Homo sapiens: one gene and its partners. The protein of the gene in region 1 interacts with the protein of each later gene in a pairwise test. Each region holds a gene or a part of one and is shown in the gene's direction. Other genes may lie near its edges.

Evidence for each region. The genes of interacting proteins can lie anywhere in the genome.
Region 2: the proteins of MIA3 (region 1) and FXR2 interact in binary tests that used the Homo sapiens proteins (3 or more experiments, as listed by UniProt).
Region 3: the proteins of MIA3 (region 1) and MTNR1B interact in a two-hybrid assay, tested with the Homo sapiens proteins (one large-scale study listed by BioGRID and IntAct).
Region 4: the proteins of MIA3 (region 1) and PRDM14 interact in binary tests that used the Homo sapiens proteins (3 or more experiments, as listed by UniProt).

Annotation. Positions count from the first base shown.
Region 1 is NC_000001.11:222,649,057-222,654,584, forward strand, and holds part of MIA3 (transport and Golgi organization protein 1 homolog isoform 1 precursor), read left to right. Parts: intron 1-1,235; coding exon 1,236-1,324; intron 1,325-1,577; coding exon 1,578-1,655; intron 1,656-1,736; coding exon 1,737-1,847; intron 1,848-2,920; coding exon 2,921-2,992; intron 2,993-3,171; coding exon 3,172-3,276; intron 3,277-3,951; coding exon 3,952-4,074; intron 4,075-4,171; coding exon 4,172-4,283; intron 4,284-5,186; coding exon 5,187-5,242; intron 5,243-5,332; coding exon 5,333-5,423; intron 5,424-5,528.
Region 2 is NC_000017.11:7,603,885-7,608,397, reverse strand, and holds part of FXR2 (RNA-binding protein FXR2), read left to right. Parts: intron 1-2,248; coding exon 2,249-2,301; intron 2,302-2,659; coding exon 2,660-2,753; intron 2,754-4,317; coding exon 4,318-4,389; intron 4,390-4,492; coding exon 4,493-4,513. UniProt on the Homo sapiens protein: mRNA-binding protein that acts as a regulator of mRNAs translation and/or stability, and which is required for adult hippocampal neurogenesis. Specifically binds to AU-rich elements (AREs) in the 3'-UTR of target mRNAs.
Region 3 is NC_000011.10:92,979,651-92,984,295, forward strand, and holds the end of MTNR1B (melatonin receptor type 1B), read left to right. Parts: intron 1-1,796; coding exon 1,797-2,662; 3' UTR 2,663-3,132; downstream 3,133-4,645.
Region 4 is NC_000008.11:70,063,740-70,068,252, reverse strand, and holds part of PRDM14 (PR domain zinc finger protein 14), read left to right. Parts: coding exon 1-23; intron 24-1,747; coding exon 1,748-2,018; intron 2,019-4,513. UniProt on the Homo sapiens protein: Transcription factor that has both positive and negative roles on transcription. Required for the maintenance of embryonic stem cell identity and the reacquisition of pluripotency in somatic cells.

The DNA of each region.
Region 1 (5,528 bases):
GTGGGAGTAGGGAGAAGATCATTAATTTGGGGCAGATTGACCTTAAATGTTGATGTAGTACCAATTTATTACATGTGACCAGTGTCCCTGTGCTAATGATTTAGTCAGTACATTAAATATTTATTTAAGTAGATAATTTGAGAACTAGAAATATAAATCAGCACGCCTGCATTTTCTGTTTCTCTTTGCAAATGACATATTTGAAGTGATGCCATTTTCTGAGAAGAAAGATGCTTCATGCAGGGAGGAATATTGAGCTATAACATTTTACTGTATTTCCCATCTTGGAAATAAATTAAACTCTCATTGAAATAAAGGTTCTTATTATATTTTTCTTAAATTCTAACCGTATTTTTACATCCTTATTCTTGTTAGCAGATTGCTTTTTGTATTAATCTGTTCTCACACTGCTATAAAGAAATACCCAAGGCCTGGTGTGGTGGCTCATGCCTGTAATCCCAACACTTTGGGAGGCCAAAGCGGAGGATTGCTTGAGCTCAGGAGTTCGAGACCAGCCTGGGCAACATGGAGAAACCCCATCTCTATAAAAAAAATATAAAAGTTAGCTGGGTGTGGTGGCACACACCTGTAGTCCCAGCTACTCAGGAGGCTGAGGCAGGAGGATTGCTTGAGCTTGGGAGGCGGACTTTGCAGTGAGCTGAGATTGCACCACTAAACTCCAGCCTGGACAACAGAGCAAGACCCTGTCTCAAAAAAAGAAATACCTGATACTGGGTAATTTATAAGAAGTTTAATTAGCTCATGTTTCTGCAGGCTATAGGAAGTATAGCGGCATCTGCTTCTGAGGAGGCCTCAGGGAGCTTTTACTCACAGCAGAAGGCAAAGCGAGAGCAGGCCATCTTACATGGTGGGAGCAGGAGCAAGAGAGAGTGAGCGGGGAGGTGCTGCACACTTTTAAAACCAGATTCCACAAGAACTCAGTCACCATCACAGAATAGCACCACAGGGATGGTGATAAACCACTCATGAGAAATCTACCCTTATGATCCAATCACCTTCCACCAGGCCCCACCTGAACACTGGGTACTATAATTTGTTATGAGATTTGATGGAGACACAGAACCAAACCATATCACTTTTTAAAACCATAATAGTTATGCTGAGAAGTTATTTTTTGTCATAGTGCAAGATAACATGTCTTTGCTGCTGATACATTGGGTAATTCAATTTCATTTAGTGATCATAATAACCTTATTATTTTTTTCTTTTTTCAGTCACGGAACAGCAAATTTCTGAGAAGTTGAAGACTATCATGAAAGAAAATACAGAACTTGTACAAAAATTGTCAAATTATGAACAGAAGGTATGATTATTCTTTGTTTTTTTTTTTTTTCATGGTCCCAGCTTGAATTATTTGTCACCTATCTTATAGTTCAGTTACTATGGTATTTTTAAATAGTATTTATTATTACATTAATTCCTATAAACCATCCAGATCTTAAGCAGTCATATGTGTAAAGTACTGTTTTCTTCTGTAAGAGGTCAGTCACTTGAAAATAAGTTCTGGTAGCACTATACTTTATATTTCTGGATTCTGAATGCTTTATTTTATATAGATCAAGGAATCAAAGAAACATGTTCAGGAAACCAGGAAACAAAATATGATTCTCTCTGATGAAGCAATTAAATATAAGGTAAAAACTTCTTTTGGGGATTACATTTTAAAACAAAAGTAAAAGTAATGAGTATAACTAACCTTAATATCTTTTTTGTAGGATAAAATCAAGACACTTGAAAAAAATCAGGAAATTCTGGATGACACAGCTAAAAATCTTCGTGTTATGCTAGAATCTGAGAGAGAACAGAATGTCAAGAATCAGGACTTGGTAAGAGTTTTGCTGCTAAGTATTACTAATAATTTGGGTTTTGAACTCTTTTGTAGATTGAGTTGAACTCTTTATTTTCCATGCTGTTATGTGAAGTAAGAGTGCGAGTCAGGGAAGTTGAACCTACTTCTGTCCATTTTTGTGGAATTTTAAGTACTTACACAAGAAATTATTCTTACAGGCCTAGGAAGTATTTTGGTTCTCAACCCTAGGTAATTGTCATATTGCTTGGCTCTGCCCTCCGAAACATGTGGAACAACTAAGAAACCCAGTTGAACAGTCCTTGTGTTTTGTTTTGTTTTGCAAAGTTTTTTTTTTTTTTTGCTATAAACATTTTATTTTATTAATAGAATAGTTTTAGAATGACCTAAAAGTTGCAAAGATAGTAGAGAGGGTTCCATAAATCCCACACCCTATTAATCTTGATGACCTCGTTGAGGTAGTATTGCCAGGTTTCTTCACTGTAAAATTACTTTTTTTTTTTTTAAACTTTTTGCATTATTGTACTCTTTGGAAGGAAGTTACTATCGCAGCCCACAGTTAAAAAGTGAAGGGTTATGCTCCATCCTCTTGAGGAGCCAGAATCTTCATAAATTATCTAGAATTCTATATGGGTGATCTGTCTATTCTCACTCCAATCCTACCATTTTTAATTTAGGCAAGAGCAATTGGTGTTTGACAAAACAATTGTCAAATTGTACTAAATTAAAGTACCTTGGGGATTATTTTTTTCTCTTGCCACAAGAAAAAAAAAAGTCACATTGATTTGAACTGGTTTACTTAAAAGTTTTTTCAGTTTCTTTTCTTTCACCTTTTAGTCTGGTCATCTACCACATTTTATTCTAACCAGGAAGGTTGTGTATGCTGTGAAATATTTATGCCTTTGATTATTTTCCCTTACCTCTTTAAGTTCTTGATTTTTCCCGAGGGCAAAACTGAAACACCTGCTTTTACCTGAAACATAGGGGATGGCTCTGGGACATACTTTGTTGATGTTTCTTCTTCTTAGTATGTATCCCAGTGTTTCTACTAAAATCCTAATATGCATTTTGTGTTCTGTTTTTACATGGCAGATATCAGAAAACAAGAAATCTATAGAGAAGTTAAAGGATGTTATTTCAATGAATGCCTCAGAATTTTCAGAGGTAAAGCTGACTGTAATTCCTGCAGGATATTAATACTATATCATAGTTTGATTGCAGAGCAAAAATTTGATATATGCTAAAATGTGCAAAAAATGAAAACTACATGATGTTGGGTTGGAAAAGTAACTTTTTCTGGTTTTCTTTGGAATTAATTCACTAATAGGAGTGTTTTGCATTAGGTTCAGATTGCACTTAATGAAGCTAAGCTTAGTGAAGAGAAGGTGAAGTCTGAATGCCATCGGGTTCAAGAAGAAAATGCTAGGCTTAAGAAGAAAAAAGAGCAGGTAAAGGAAAGTGCGTGTCCCAGGTCATGTAAAATAGAGAACTCAGTATCATACCTCATGAATGCCTTTACTCAGATCTATTTTTAGGGTAATATATGTGCAGGATTCTGTTCTTAGATATGCAAAGTTTAAACTATGCTTCCAAAATTGAGTGTAGGTATACATTCTCTATCTGTTCTGGATTTTCTGTTCTGTACAATTTATTTTGGCTATCAGAGTGTGTAGTCTTGTTTTGTCAGACACCAATTGCTATTAACTTGAGTAGCCTCGAGTGGGTAGTAGATTGGCTTTTTAGACCCAAGAGTTAGATATTTTATAACCCTCCTTTGAGTAGTTACTGCTTCACTAGCCAAGGGAAGGTTACATGATCAGGAGTGTGGACTTGGGAGATAGTAGGATGAGCCCTTCTGTTCCTTCTGGAAGTGAATTATTTGAATTGGCTACAATTTTCTGAAGGATGCAATAAACAAGATCAATTTCCTTGATAGCTCTGATGTTCTCACTACAGCTCTGAGGGTTGGGGCCACTGTCTCCTCCCACTTAACCAAGGTCTTAGCCCATAGTGATAGGCCAAGGAGAGGCATGGTTCCTTATTTACCTGTCTCATTCATGTGGTCCTAATGTCTCCAGTGCAAAAGCCCTAACCTGTGGGAATCATGTGTTTTAACTTTGCAGTTGCAGCAGGAAATCGAAGACTGGAGTAAATTACATGCTGAGCTCAGTGAGCAAATCAAATCATTTGAGAAGTCTCAGAAAGATTTGGAAGTAGCTCTTACTCACAAGGATGATAATATTAATGTAAGTGCGTTCATGAATACAAGCTTAATTCTTGTGAATTATCAAATCTGTTGAATTAAATGGAAAGACTCTTAATGCCCTTTTACTTCTTTTCTAGGCTTTGACTAACTGCATTACACAGTTGAATCTGTTAGAGTGTGAATCTGAATCTGAGGGTCAAAATAAAGGTGGAAATGATTCAGATGAATTAGCAAATGGAGAAGTGGGAGGTAAGATCAGCCTCAAGGAGGATGGACCCCTTTTGCCTTCCTGTCTTTAAGTGCACCAGTGCTACTTTTCAGCTGGCTGCATTTCCTCTTAAGCTTTCGAGGTGTAAATACATTGGATTTGAATGTGTGTCTGTTTGCATTGGGCAGAGGTGGATTGCTAGGGTGAGGTGTAGCAGTAAGCATGCAGTGAACACTGACTTTGTTTTCACATTGAGACTAGAAGGGTGCACGGGAGCTGCACTGGTCATGTCTTACACCTCTAAGTATTGGACACATACAGTAGTAGAAACTTGTTTTTCAATTTCATGGAGATAACATTTTAAAACTTGTCATCTCAGTAGCTGTGTGGTTTTAAGGCCCACAACTGGTTTTAAGAGTACTGAGGTGGTTGGAGGCATAAACTGACTAAGGCCATGAAAGAAAACCACAACTGGTTTTGAGAGTACTGAGGTGGTTGGATCCATAAACTAAGGCCATGAGAGTGGAGGCTATAGTGTTGCAGTGTTTACTGATGAGGAAAATGTTTCTAGATGCCCTCTCTCAAGTTGGATATTGCTTGTGTAGTGGGTGTTTTAAACCACACCTGGTAGTAGATTCTGGAGGAGAATAGGAGGGAATCTTTCTGAATAAGACACTAAGCCCAGATGGAAGAAAGAGCTTTATCTCACATGTTTCTTCTTGCTCAATAATGGCATGTATAACATGTTTATTGTACAAATGGGAATTCACTTTTTCAGTCTTAAGTTTGCAGTTCTCTTAAAAGTCAGTCTAATCCTTTTCTGTTTTTGTTTGTTCTTTAAATGTTTGAACATGACAATTGTTTAGTTTTGGGTAAATCAAGAAAATATAGATTTAAAAAGCAAGGGAAGAAAAAGCAATGAAAGAAAGCCTTTTGTTTTTTAGGTGACCGGAATGAGAAGATGAAAAATCAAATTAAGCAGATGATGGATGTCTCTCGGGTATAATCGTTTTTAGAGTCCCATAATTGCCTGTGAATACTTTTACTATGCCTCACTTTTATGAATACTTGTCTCTTCTGCAATTTTTAGACACAGACTGCAATATCGGTAGTTGAAGAGGATCTAAAGCTTTTACAGCTTAAGCTAAGAGCCTCCGTGTCCACTAAATGTAACCTGGAAGGTAGGTTGCTTCTTGAGAAGAAATTGCTATATATTGGAAAGATACAAAATTGCATTAGAAAGATAAAGAGCGGCTTCCTGCTTTCATACTTCTCATTTCTCTCAG
Region 2 (4,513 bases), on another chromosome or scaffold:
CTAGTCTCGAACTCATGGCCTCAGCTGATCTGCCAGCCTCGGCCTCCCAGTGTTGGGATTACAGGCGTGTGCTACCGCCCCTGGCCAGAAAGGATAGTCTTCAACAGACAGTGCTGGAACAAGATATCTTTAGGTAAAAAATGGGCTGGGCACAGTGGTCACACCTGTAATTCCAACATTCTTGGAGGCTAAGGCGGGTGCATTGCTTGAGTCCAGGAGTTCAAGACCAGCCTGGGCAACATAGCGAAACCCTGTCTCTATTAAAAAAAAATTTTAATTTAAAAATATATTAAAAATAAAAAAAAGTGGCCTGGTGCGATGGTTCATACCTGTAATCCCAGCACTTTGGGAGGCTGAGGCGGGTGGATCACCAGAGGTCGGGAGTTTGAGACCAGTCTGACGAACATGGAGAAACCCTGTCTCTCTTAAAAATACAGAATTAGCCAGGGTCGTGGCCCATGCCTGTAATCCCAGCTACTTGGGAGGCTGAGGCAGAATTGCTTGAACCTGGGAGGCGGAGGTTGCGGTGAGCCAAGGTTGCACCATTGCACTCCAGCGTGGGCAACAAGAGCGAAACTCTGTCTCAAAAAAATAAATAAGAATTTAAAAATTTAAAAAACATTGATCAATACCTCACCTTATATATAAAATTTAATTCAAAATGGATCATAGGCTGGGCACAGTGGCTCACATCTTTAATTCCAGCTTTGGGAGGCTGAGGCAGATGGATCACCTGAGGTCAGGAGTTCGAGACCAACCTGGCCAAGATGGTGAAACCCCGTCTCTACTAAAAATATAAAAAATTAGCCTGGTGTGGTGGCGGTTGCCTGTAATCTCAGCTACTCGTGAGGCTGAGGCAGGAGAATTGCTTGAACCCGGGGGGTGGAGGTTGCAGTGGGCCAAGATTGCGCCATTACACTCCAGCCTGGGTGACAGAGTGAGACTCTGTCTAAAAATAAAGGATTATAGATGTAAATGTAAAACAAAAAACTAAAAGTTTAAGAAGAAGACATAAGAGAAAACCTTTGTGGCCTTGGATTAGGCAAAGATTTCTTTTTCTTTTTCTTTTTTTTTTTTTTGAGATGGAGTTTTGCTCTTGTTGCCCAGGCTGGAGTGCAATGGCATGATCTTGGCTCACTGCAACCTCTGACTCTCAGGTTCAAGTGATTCTCTTTCCTCAGCCTCCCAAATAGCTGGGATTACAGACATGCACCACCACACCTGGCTAATTTTTGTATTTTTAGTAGAGACGGGGTTTCACCATGTTGGCAGGCTGGTCTCGAACTCCTGACCTCAGGTGATCTGCCTGCCTCGTCCTCCCAAAGTGCTGGGATTATAGGCGTGAGCCACTGTGCCTGGCCTGGGCAAAGATTTCTTAGATATGAAACCAAAAGCACAGTTGATAAAATAATAAATTCATAAGCTAGACCTTTTTCAAAATTAGAAATCCCTAATTGTATGTGAAAAATAGGGAGAAGGTAGAAAAATTGGGAGCATAGGGGTGAATGCATGGCTTTGGCCTCCTTAGTGAGGACACAGACCACAGGAGGTGGATCAGCTGTTCAGTCATCCCTCTTGCTCTTGTCAAAATATCAAGATTGGAGTCTTCCATAAATTTTATTATCCTTTATAAATTATCAGTGTCATTCTAGATTCAATTCTAGTATTAAAAAACCGATGTTTTTAAATTAAGTCTTAATTTTTCCTTCTGTAAATTGTGTTCATCACAATTTTGAACTTGTCTAGTGTTCCGATTATTGTCTTAGGACCCATGCATCAGGGCAGCGAGTCTGCTCAGATCTCTTGCTGTATTGCGGAGGTAGGCCCTTCTCTCTCGACAGATCCTCATGTCCTCTAGGTGTTCCAGGACAGCCTCACACTGTCTCATGGGATATTCTTAGCCTTGCTGAATGTTGTTGGTATTTTAATTGAACTCTGGCAGGCTGCTTAGCACAACAGGAGGCAGACAGATAGGGAGGCCCCTGTGGGAGCCTGAGTAGATCATTGGTTTCCAGGCTGTTCTGATGCAGGTGGTACATACACCTCTCCATGACAATATCATTTCCTTTCTCTGTTTGACTGCCCATATTCTTTCCCCAGTGCAGCCTTTCAGGCTGTCTCATTACACCACTTGTGTCCCTATCTAAAACTCAAGTTTAAGGTTTTGTGGTGTCTTATTCCCTTGATGGCTAAGGTGGAAGTAAAAGGTCATTTTATTTTTTTTGCTTTTTTCTAAAATCCATTCTAGGGCTTTGTGAAGGATGTCCATGAAGACTCTGTCACCATCTTCTTTGAAAACAAGTAAGACCTTGGGAATAGAGAATCCAGCATACTAGGTCCTAGAAGGAGAGTGGAGAAGAGGGGGCAGCTGAGTCCTATGAGGCATGTAATAGGTTGGGAGAGCTGAGGGTTTGGGTGGGAACTCATATGGATCCCAGGAGAGGAAAGGGCTGAGAATTTGGTGAGGGTGGGGGCATTTGACCCAGTATTTAGAGTCTAGAAAGAGATGGAAGACACTACTATGGAGCAGGGCCTGGGGTTTAGCCTCTAATTATCCAGATAGGTGGAACTCGCCCAGCTGAGGCAATAACCCTTTTGTAAAGAAATGGGCAACCATATCAGTCAGAGTAGCTTTTTCATATTATTGTTTCTATTATAGCTGGCAGAGTGAGAGACAAATTCCTTTTGGGGATGTCCGGCTACCACCTCCAGCTGACTATAATAAGGAGATCACAGAAGGGGATGAAGTGGAGGTAAGGGCTGTGGAGTACACCTTTCTAAATGTCACTTTTCCCCAGGATTCTAGGCTTTTCTCTGGTTGGTTCATGTTCCTTCCTCCCCAACTAAGCCATATCCAGCCATGTAGCCTATGGAAATGTAAAATGCAACAGTTCCCCTTTTATCACTGTTGTGATCAGCCAAACTCTCAGGAACATCCCCAGTTTCAGGCGATTTGCCTTCCATTTATGGTAACAACATCTAAAATCCAGTGCCCTCTGATTTTTTTGTTGTTGTTGTTGTTGTTGTTTTGAGATGGAGTCTTGCTCTGTTGCCCAGGCTGGAGTGCAGTGGCGCGATCTCAGCTAACTGCAACCTCCGCCTCTTGGGTTCAAGCAATTCTTCCACCTCAGCCTCCCAAGTAGCTGGGATTACAAGCACCTGCCATCATGCTCGGGTAATTTTTGCATTTTTGTAAAGACATGGTTTCACCATGTTGGCCAGGCTAGTCTTGAATTTCTGACTTCAGGTGATCCACCCGCCTCAGCTTCCCAAAGTGCTGGGATTACAGGCATGAGCCACCATGCCCTGCCGTCCTCTGATTTTAATTAGTTCCTTCCTCTGGTTTCTTGTATCCTTGGTTTAAGATACATCCCAGGCTGGATGCAGTGGCTCACACCTGAAATCCCAGCACTTTGAGAGGTCGAGTGGGGCAGATCACCTGAGGTCAGGAGTTCAAGACCAGCCTGGCCAACATGATGAAACCCCATCTCTACTAAAAATACAAAAAATTAGCTGGGCGTGGTGGCGGGCGCCTATAATCCCAGCTACTTGGGAGGCTGAGGCAGGAGAATCGCTTGAACCCAGGAAGTGGAGGTTGCAGTGAGCTGAGATTGTGCCATTGCACTCCAGCCTGAGCACCAAGAGCGAAACTCTGTCTCAAAAAAAAAAAAAAAAAGATGCATCCCAAATACCTTTTTTTTCTTTTTGAGATGAAGTCTCACTCTGTTGCCCAAGCTGGAGTGCAGTGGCGCGGTCTCAGCTCACTGCAACCTCCACCTCCTGGTTCAAGTGATTCTCCTGCCTCAGCCTCCTGTGTAGCTTGGAGTACAGGCATGTGGCACCACACCCGGCTAATTTTTGTATTTTTAGTAGAGGTGGGGTTTTACCATGTTGGCCAGGCTGGTCTTGAACTCCTGACTTCAGGTGATCAGCCCACCTCAGCCAAAGTCCTGGGATTATGGGCATAAGCCACCGCGCTTGGCCTCTTTTTTTTTCGTGGAAGTGGGGTCTCACTGTGTTGCCCAGATCGTTCTTGAACTCCTGAGCTCAAGAGATCCTCCCACCTTGGCCTTCCAAAGTGCTGGGATTATAAGCTTGAGCCACTGTGCCCAGCAGCCCCAAATATCTTAATGGTTGTTCTATTGTTTATGTTGCCCAAGCTGGTCTTGAACTCCTGGGCATAAGCAGTCCTTTTGCCTCAGCCTCCCAAAGCGCTGAGATTACAGGTGTGAGCCCCACCATGCCCGGCCTCCTCATCCCTTTCTTGATGCTTTTGGGTGGTCTTCAATATCTCTTTGATTCTCTACTTTTCTTTAGGTTTATTCTCGAGCCAATGAACAGGAACCTTGTGGCTGGTGGCTGGCCCGGGTGCGGATGATGAAGGGAGATGTGAGTGACTGGGAATGCCTTTGGAGAACTACTGAAACAAATATGTTATTCATAGAAAGTTGCTCAGGTCATCCACAACTTCTCCTTTTTTACCATGTGCCAGTTCTATGTCATTGAATATGCT
Region 3 (4,645 bases), on another chromosome or scaffold:
CCTGTCTCCCTGGTTTCCTAACCTAGCTGTGGACACAGTAGTATTATAGTTAGGTCTTGAGAACTCCCAGGACTCCAGTAGACTTGTGTGGGTTCTCAGTGGGGTTGACCCCATTCCTCTGAGGTCAAAATAGGCCCTTCATGAAGGCTTCCTGAGGGTCTTTCAAGTTCCCATCCCCATTCGGACCATGCTATGGGGAATCTTCTTTGAGATGGGGTGAATGTGGGAAGGCTGGAGGCAGTCCTTTTCCTACCCTTGTGGGTGAATAAGTCCAGGTGTGCCATCTACTTCACTTGAAGGGCTGACTCAGGTGAAATCCCAGCTGGGCGGCTCTCAGCCTCCCTTTTTCTGTACCCCGTGGAATCCACACAGAGCCTGGCCTCTCCAATTGCTGTGCTTTGGGGGCTCTTTCCACCTGCCTGACCCTCTAGACCCCCAAAGCCACCACAGCCTCTGTGGCAATGGGACAGACACATGGTGGCTGTGGAGTTTCCATGTCTGTGTCTTTGCTGACTTGGGAGTTCCTCCTGCACACCATCCCAGCCGCCCTCTGCATTCCGCCACCCTAAGGCTGGAGGCTTCACCATGTGGCAAGAGACCAGAAAATTTAAAATACCATGCCCAGTGCACATTGCATCACTCAGGGACCCTGCTGGAGGGAGAGTCTGTTATCTTTTGAGCATACAGTAGGTATTCAAAAAGTACAACACTTGGTGAATGAGAAGATTGGCATTAGTGATGGAACTGCTCACACTATGAGCTTTGTATTGCCCAAACGTTTAGGTTCTTGGTGCTCTATTCGTGAGTCAGTGTTGGTTTTAGAACGCAAACACTTGAGGAGCAGAGATTGTGTTCTTTTAGAGTAAGCCCTGCCTCTGCCCTGGGACTCCAGCTTAGAACATGCCTGAAGCATATTAATTGATGGGTGTATCATTTCCTGAGGCTCTCTCTGGTTGACCAAGCTTGGTGATGTTGGATAAGGCTCCATTCAAAGGATAAATGCCTAGATAGTCCAGGAAGGCCACCATGGTGCAGGCAAAGCAGGGAGGCCCCCCAGAGGCTGTGAGCTTAGGAGTGCTGACAGCCCTTTCTCACCCCACAGGGCTGGGGCTCTGTGCCGCTACTGCAAGTGTCTGTCAACATGGCCACAAGGCTGGGAGTACTGGACCCAGACAGGGCACAAATGGGAATACCAGAAACACATGGTTCCCACTCTCAACACCTTTCTTCTAGTCCAGCTGCAAAATGCAATTCACATTTACAAAACCCATGTAAAGACACTTAGAAAGTAGCCTGTTAACCAGTGGGGAGAAAATGCAAAAGGAGACAACCAGAGAGATGTGCGAGGAGGTGAGGGAATGTGAGGGAGCGATGATAGTGATGAGAAATCCACACTCCTGACTTTCAGACTCTCCTCCTCCGAAATCTTTGCTGGAGCTTAAATGGTGCAAAGCCCGTGAGCATCTGTGCCTATCATGGAAACAGTTAGCATGTGTCAGCACCTGTTAAATCCCTGAGCACTTTGTATCATTAATTCTTACAGCTATACTATGAGGTAGGTATCACTGCCCCTAGTTCACAAATGAGGAAAATGGGGCTCTGAGAGCCTAAACAGCTTGCCTCAGTCATATAGCTAGTGAGTGGCAGAAATGCAATCTGAGTCTTCAGTTCTGTGCCTCTAAGAGCCACTTGGTTTCCACTCACATTGCCAAAAGTAACTTCGTGGAGGGTAGGATGTTCTACAGAATCTAAGTCGTGGGGTCTCGTGCTGACTGTTGCTCTGTTTGCTGCTTCAGGTAATTTGTTCTTGGTGAGTCTGGCATTGGCTGACCTGGTGGTGGCCTTCTACCCCTACCCGCTAATCCTCGTGGCCATCTTCTATGACGGCTGGGCCCTGGGGGAGGAGCACTGCAAGGCCAGCGCCTTTGTGATGGGCCTGAGCGTCATCGGCTCTGTCTTCAATATCACTGCCATCGCCATTAACCGCTACTGCTACATCTGCCACAGCATGGCCTACCACCGAATCTACCGGCGCTGGCACACCCCTCTGCACATCTGCCTCATCTGGCTCCTCACCGTGGTGGCCTTGCTGCCCAACTTCTTTGTGGGGTCCCTGGAGTACGACCCACGCATCTATTCCTGCACCTTCATCCAGACCGCCAGCACCCAGTACACGGCGGCAGTGGTGGTCATCCACTTCCTCCTCCCTATCGCTGTCGTGTCCTTCTGCTACCTGCGCATCTGGGTGCTGGTGCTTCAGGCCCGCAGGAAAGCCAAGCCAGAGAGCAGGCTGTGCCTGAAGCCCAGCGACTTGCGGAGCTTTCTAACCATGTTTGTGGTGTTTGTGATCTTTGCCATCTGCTGGGCTCCACTTAACTGCATCGGCCTCGCTGTGGCCATCAACCCCCAAGAAATGGCTCCCCAGATCCCTGAGGGGCTATTTGTCACTAGCTACTTACTGGCTTATTTCAACAGCTGCCTGAATGCCATTGTCTATGGGCTCTTGAACCAAAACTTCCGCAGGGAATACAAGAGGATCCTCTTGGCCCTTTGGAACCCACGGCACTGCATTCAAGATGCTTCCAAGGGCAGCCACGCGGAGGGGCTGCAGAGCCCAGCTCCACCCATCATTGGTGTGCAGCACCAGGCAGATGCTCTCTAGCCTGGATCTGAGGCACACCAGCAGCATGACAAACTCATGAAATGGTGGGAGAGAGTCTGCTGCAAGGGTGAGACCAGGCAGCCTGCTGGGCCACACTGTCCTGTTGGCATCACAGCCCCAAGGCTGGGGGAACTTCATGCTGGGACAAGCAGCCCATCAACGCCATGGGTTCAGGCTGATCCAGGAGATGCTCACAGGCCACAGGACCTGGAAAACACTCTTGGTGGTGTCTTGGGGATTTGGTGCACACAAGACCAAGGAAAGGACAGAATGAGGAAAGGCCTGGGGCAGAAGAGCCCAACTCCTTCTCATAGCTGACCCTCATCCTCCTGCCTTGGCCTCCTGGCTGCTTTCTCCCCTTCCCCCCAGCGTGGCAGGATCTCTTCCTGTTAGCAAGGATGAAAGAGAGAGGTCAGTAGGACTGGAACTTGGTAACTGCAAGGGCCTCAGGTGGGGCAGGTGCAGAGGGCAAGCATTCCACACTCCGCCATTGACCTTCCCTACACACACACAATCACAACCACACATGCATCACACCACAGACACACCACACTATGCACACATACACTGTGTACACATACATATGTTACACACACATAGCCACCACATCACAAACACACTGCACCCCCCCCCCCCACACACACACACACAGTCACACTGCTCCAGCATCTGGAGCACAAAGTCCGCTTGGCCTCCTTTTCTGGTTCCATCATGTTCAGGTTGTGTGACTTGGGGAAAGTCTCCTAACCTCCCTGTTCCTCAGTTTACTCATCTTAAAGTGAAGATCATGCCGTAGTCAGCCTCCCAGGTTGTTGTGAGGATTCTCTGGGATAACACATCTGCAGAGCTGAGGACAGTGCCTGACATGTGGCTAGCAGGCAGTAATCATTAGCTTTTGTTATTATTATAACTACATAAAATGAAGGAGAAAAGTCATATACAAAGAAAGGAAGGGCTATCACCGGATGCGGTGCCTCACCCCTGCCTCAGCTTGAACCCAGGAGTTCAAGACCAGCCTAAGCAACATGGCAAAACCCTGTCTCTACAAAAATTAGCTGGGCATGGTGGCCCATTCCTGTGGTCCTAACTACTCAGGAGGCTGAGGTGGGAGGATCACTTCAGCTCAGCAGGTTGAGGCTACAGTGAGCTGAGATTGTGCCACTGTACCCCAGACTGGGTGACAAAGTGAGAGCAAGACCCTGTCTCAGAAAAAAAAAAAAAAAGAAGAAGAAGTAGAAGGACAGGAAGGGAAGGGGAGAAAATGGGGTAGGGGACATGGAAGTGGGGAAAGGGCAGCTGCACCCCAATTCATTTCTATGGTTATGTATTTGTGGACTTTATATTCGTAGAAATCTCAGATCTTTGTTTAGCGCCAACAGAATTAATAGCTTTCTTCAGTTCCACAAACACTGAGTGCCCTCTGTGGGCCAGGACTGGTTTGTTGCCTGCCCTCTGCAAGGTCACAGTCTGTTGATAAATTAGTATCAAGTAATATCCATTGGTGCTTTCTATGTACCAGGCATTGTGGTAAGGGCTTGATATGCATTATGTCATTTAATCCCCACAAAACTCTTGGAAAAAGATACTATGATCAATTTTCATAGTAAGAAACTGAAACTCAAAAATGTGGAATGATTGCCAGAATTCAGATAGCTATGTTCAGAGCTAGATGTGGAGCTCAAGTCTGTCTGATGACAGCACCCTACTTCTATCCCCCATCATCCCACCTCGGAATATGTGGCAGGGACAAAGTGCAGTGGGCTAAGTACTGCATGTCCACAATGTGCCTGGGGTCCTCAGCCACCCAGCGGCTTTCCTGAATGAAGAACCCAGGATTTTCTTGGTGTGCTGACCTCTTAGCATTATGCTGGATCCTCTTTCTGGCCTTGCAATGTGAGGAATCTAGGCTGGGTGCTGTGCTTAGTCCCCTAGCCACCTGGGAGCTTGCTTAAAAATGCAAATCTTCTGGGCTCTGACAACAAG
Region 4 (4,513 bases), on another chromosome or scaffold:
GAGACAATTCTGTGATGTGGGAGGTAAATCTGTTTCTGGTGGGTCTGCTGCTGAAAATGGGGCGGGAGACTAGTCCGGGGAAATCTTGGCCTTTGCCCTTTTGGGAGAGTCCTGGTCAGAGAGAGAGGACATCCAGGGCAGATATCTGTGGTTTGTGTTGCCTGTAAAAGGAAGGAACGGCCAGTGTTTGCTCCATGAGGATAGCACCTCTGCATGAATTCTGTGTTTTGTGGGTGCCTTAAGTCATTTTAGTCTGGAAGATTAGCAATGGAATATACATTTAAAGAATCAATATGTTGTATTATATTTATAGACAAAACTAAATGCTTTAGATATTATAGAGTGCTGAAACTATGCTAAAGAGAATAAAAACAAGTTTTAAAATTCAATATTATTCACCTATAAAATTAGTCAAGGATTAAAAAAAAAATAACCAGATACTCTTCAAGATCTAGTGATGATATATTAGGGATATGCTAGTGGGACTGCAGTTTATTACCTGCAGGAGAAAATTTGTCAGAATGTATCAGATACCTTAAAATGTTCAAAGTCCCTTGACCCTGAATTTCTACTTCTAGGAATATAGTACAGGAAAATAATCTGAAATTGAGGCTATGTGGAATATGTTAATCCTAGGGTTGTTTATAATAACAAAATGTTGGAGACAGCGAAATTGCCAGCAGCAGAGAAAGAAGTAATCTTTCTTTGTTTTTTTTTTTTTGTTTTTTTTTTCTTGAGACGGAGTTTTTGTCTGTTACCCAGGTTGGAGTGCAGTGGCGTGATCTCAGCTCACTGTGACCTCCACCTCCTGGGTTCAAGCAATTCTCTTGCCTCAGTCTTCCGAGTAGCTAGGATTACAGGCATGTGCCACCATGCCCGGCTAATTTTTGTATTTTTAGTAGAGAGGGGTTTCACCATGTTGGCCAGGCTGGTCTCGAACTCCTGACCTCATGATCCGCCTGCTTTGGCCTCCCAAAGTGCGGGGATTACAGGTGTGAGCCACCAGGCCCGGCCTTGAAAGAAATAATCTATAGCTCCATTAATATGCATGAAACCTAACTGGGAGTAAAATATAAAACTATTCAGTTGTGTTTAAGTGGTGGAATTAAATAAAACCTTTTTGTTTCACTTACCTCTGCTTATGAAATTAACATGTGCTCACTATAGGAATTTGGGAAGCAAGAAAGTGATAAAAGTAAGAATCTTTTAGAATATGTCACATTAGGCAGGCTCAGTGGCTTACACCTGTAATTCTAGCACTTTAGGAGGCCAAGGTGGGAGGATCACTTGAACCCAGGAGTTTGAGGCCAGCCTAGGAAAGAGTGAGGCCCTGTCTCTACAAAAAATTTTTTTAAAAAAATTTGCCAGGCGTGATGGTGCATGCCTTTAGTTCCAGCTACTCAGGGGGCTAAGGTGGGAGGATCATTTGAGCCCAGGAATTCGAGGCTACTGTGACCTGTGATTGAGCCACTGCACTCCAGTCTGGGCAACAGAGTGAGACTCTGTCTCTGAAAAAAACAAACAAACCCAATATGTGACATTACCTAGAGAGGTGTCCTTAAACTAACAAATCTATGTTGGCATAAGTAAATTTATAAACTACTTGTAATGACATAAAAATCAGAATGATAGAAGTGTATTTGGTGGACTCAAGTGTGATATTTAGGTTACAAGTATTAAAAAATTTATTTTATAGATTAGACCAAAAAAGAAGTACAATACAAACTTCATGTCTTATTTCATTTAGATCTTTGAAGATGGTCATTTGAGCCACTTTATAGATGGAAAAGGAGGTACGGGGAACTGGATGTCCTATGTCAACTGTGCCCGCTTCCCCAAGGAGCAGAACCTAGTTGCTGTGCAGTGTCAAGGGCATATATTTTATGAGAGCTGCAAAGAGATCCATCAGAACCAAGAGCTCCTTGTGTGGTATGGAGACTGCTATGAGAAATTTCTGGATATTCCTGTGAGCCTTCAGGTCACAGAGCCGGGGAAGCAGCCATCTGGGCCCTCTGAAGGTGAGTGCACACCCTCGCCTTGCCCAATGAGGGCATCCCAGTAGAAGGACTGGGCTCTTTTCCACAAACCCTCCATGCACAGCTCCTCCCTCCTAAAGGCTAATGCAGAGGACTAACCGAGAGTGTCTCTAACCAGGGGGGAATTACCCAGGTGAAGGAAAGCATCCTCAATTTCCCAAAGCTGCGGAAGCTACTCCTATTTATAAAGATATATACTCCTATTTATAAAGACTTGTTCTTCTTCCCTACCTTCCACCCCAAGAGTAAAAGAAAACGTACTAAATGGATGTAACTTCTACCATAGGTGAGCCAGTTTCTGATTCATCTCTGCCCAGGCTAATGTAGCTGAAGTCTAATCACTAGAGCAGTGTTTTTCAAATGGTGGGTTGCAGAGTTGCATGTCTTAGTGGGGTGGGAAATCAATTTAGTGGTCAAGACCCACATTAAAAAAAAAAAAAAGTATAGAGTAGAATAGAAAATATTGATGGGAATCCCTTAAGAGTAAGGATTGTTTTGTGAAATTTCTATTTCACATGGGTATATGTGGGTATGGTGGGTGTCAAGCATAAAATACATTGCCTACTATGGGTCTCAGGCAAGTTTGAGAAATACTGAGCTGGACTCTCACTCTCAAACTTTAATGTGGGAATGAATACCCAGGGATCTTCATGATGCTGGTTCTCATTCAGGGTAGGGGCCCAGGATTTGGTATTTTTATCAACTTGCAGGGAGTGCTGCTGGTCCTGGTCCCTGGTCCACATTCCAGTAGCAAGGGGCGAGGGAACCACCAGCCCACTCTAGGGGTGAGACTTTGGAATTTGCATGTTAAATAAGCTCTCCAAGTGATTTCTATATACACTGAAGTTTAGGAACTACTAATCTAGTAGGTGGGACAAGATAAATGTAAATTCCTGTAAATAAGAGAGAAGGCAGGCCGGATACTGTGGCTCACACCTGTAATCTCAGCACTTTTGGAGGCGGAGATGGGCGGATCACTTGAGGTCAGGACTTCAAGACTAGCCTGGCCAACATGGTAAAACCTCATCTCAGGTCGGGCACAGTGGCTCACGCCTCTAATCCCAGCACTTTGGGATGCCGAAATGGGCAGATCACCAGGTCAGGAGATCAAGACCATCCTGGCTAACGTGGTGAAAACCCGTCTCTACTAAAAATACAAAAAATTAGCGGGGCGTAGTGGCACACACCTGTAGTTCCAGCTACTCAGGAGGCTGAGGCAGGAGAATCATTTGAACCCAGGAGACAGAGGTTGCAATATGCCAAGACCGCACCACTGCACTCCAGCCTGGGCAACAGAGTAAGACTCCGTCTCCAAAAAAAAAAAAAGAGAGAGAGAGAAGGCAAATTATTATGATGTAATAAATGTGTAAGGAGCAGGTTTAAAAAAAAAATGGCCCAGGCGTGGTGGCCCACGCCTGTAATCCCAGCACTTTGGGAGGTGAGGCGGGCGGATCACGAGGTCAGGAGATCATAGCCATCCTGGCTAACACGGTGAAACCTCTTCTCTACTAAAAATACAAAAAAATTAGCCGGGCGTGGTGGCGGGCCCCTGTAGTCCCAGCTACTTGGGAGGCTGAGGCAGGAGAATGGCGTGAACCCAGCAGGGGGAGCTTGCAGTGAGCTGAGATTGCGCCACTGCACACCAGCCTGGGCGACAGAGCGAGATTCCGTTTCAAAAAAAAAAAAAAAAAAAGTAAATTGCATCTGCATGCCTGTTTTCCTGCTAGGCTGAGATGCTTCAGGGCAGGAAATAACCCTAAACACTTTAGTATCTCGTGCTTCTGGATCCCAGTGCGTACTGACTGAGAGGAAGACATTAGAACTAAGCTAGAAAAAGCTGCTTAGGGATGAGATGAAATAAGGCACGTGTAAGAGGGAGAGAGGGAAGGCAATCAGGCTCAGGGAACAGTGAAGCAGAAGGCAAGGAAATGTCCAGAAATTAGGGGGTAAATAATAAGCAGTCATTATTTATCTAATGATAAATAATGAGCAGTCAGCCGTCATTATTTATCTAATGATAAATAATGGTCCCAATGATGAGGGGCTGTCAGGATTGTTTTGGTGAACTATCTTCCTACTCCCCCAGGTATCTTATGTCCATGCTGGGTTCCCCCCGCCACTGAACCATCATAAGCCCTCATTCTGTTGCTTGTTCTGATCGCCTCTGATATCTGCATACAGGTTGAGTATCCTTTTTCTGAAATGCCTGGGACCAGAAGTGTTTTGGTGGGTGGTGTGGGTGTGGGAATGTAGGTGAAGATAGGAATGGAGGCAAAAATGGTTGGGATTCTCTATGATCTGTGGAGCTCTAAGTTGTCTCCTACTTAGCACCAAACCAAGACCTGTTGGTCACTTCCTGAAATGTACCAACTCCTTTCGAAATAAAAGTCAACAGGCTGGGCGTGGTGGCTCACACCTGTAACCCCAACACTTTGGGAGGCCAAGGTGGTTGGGTCACCTGAGGTCAGGAGTTCACG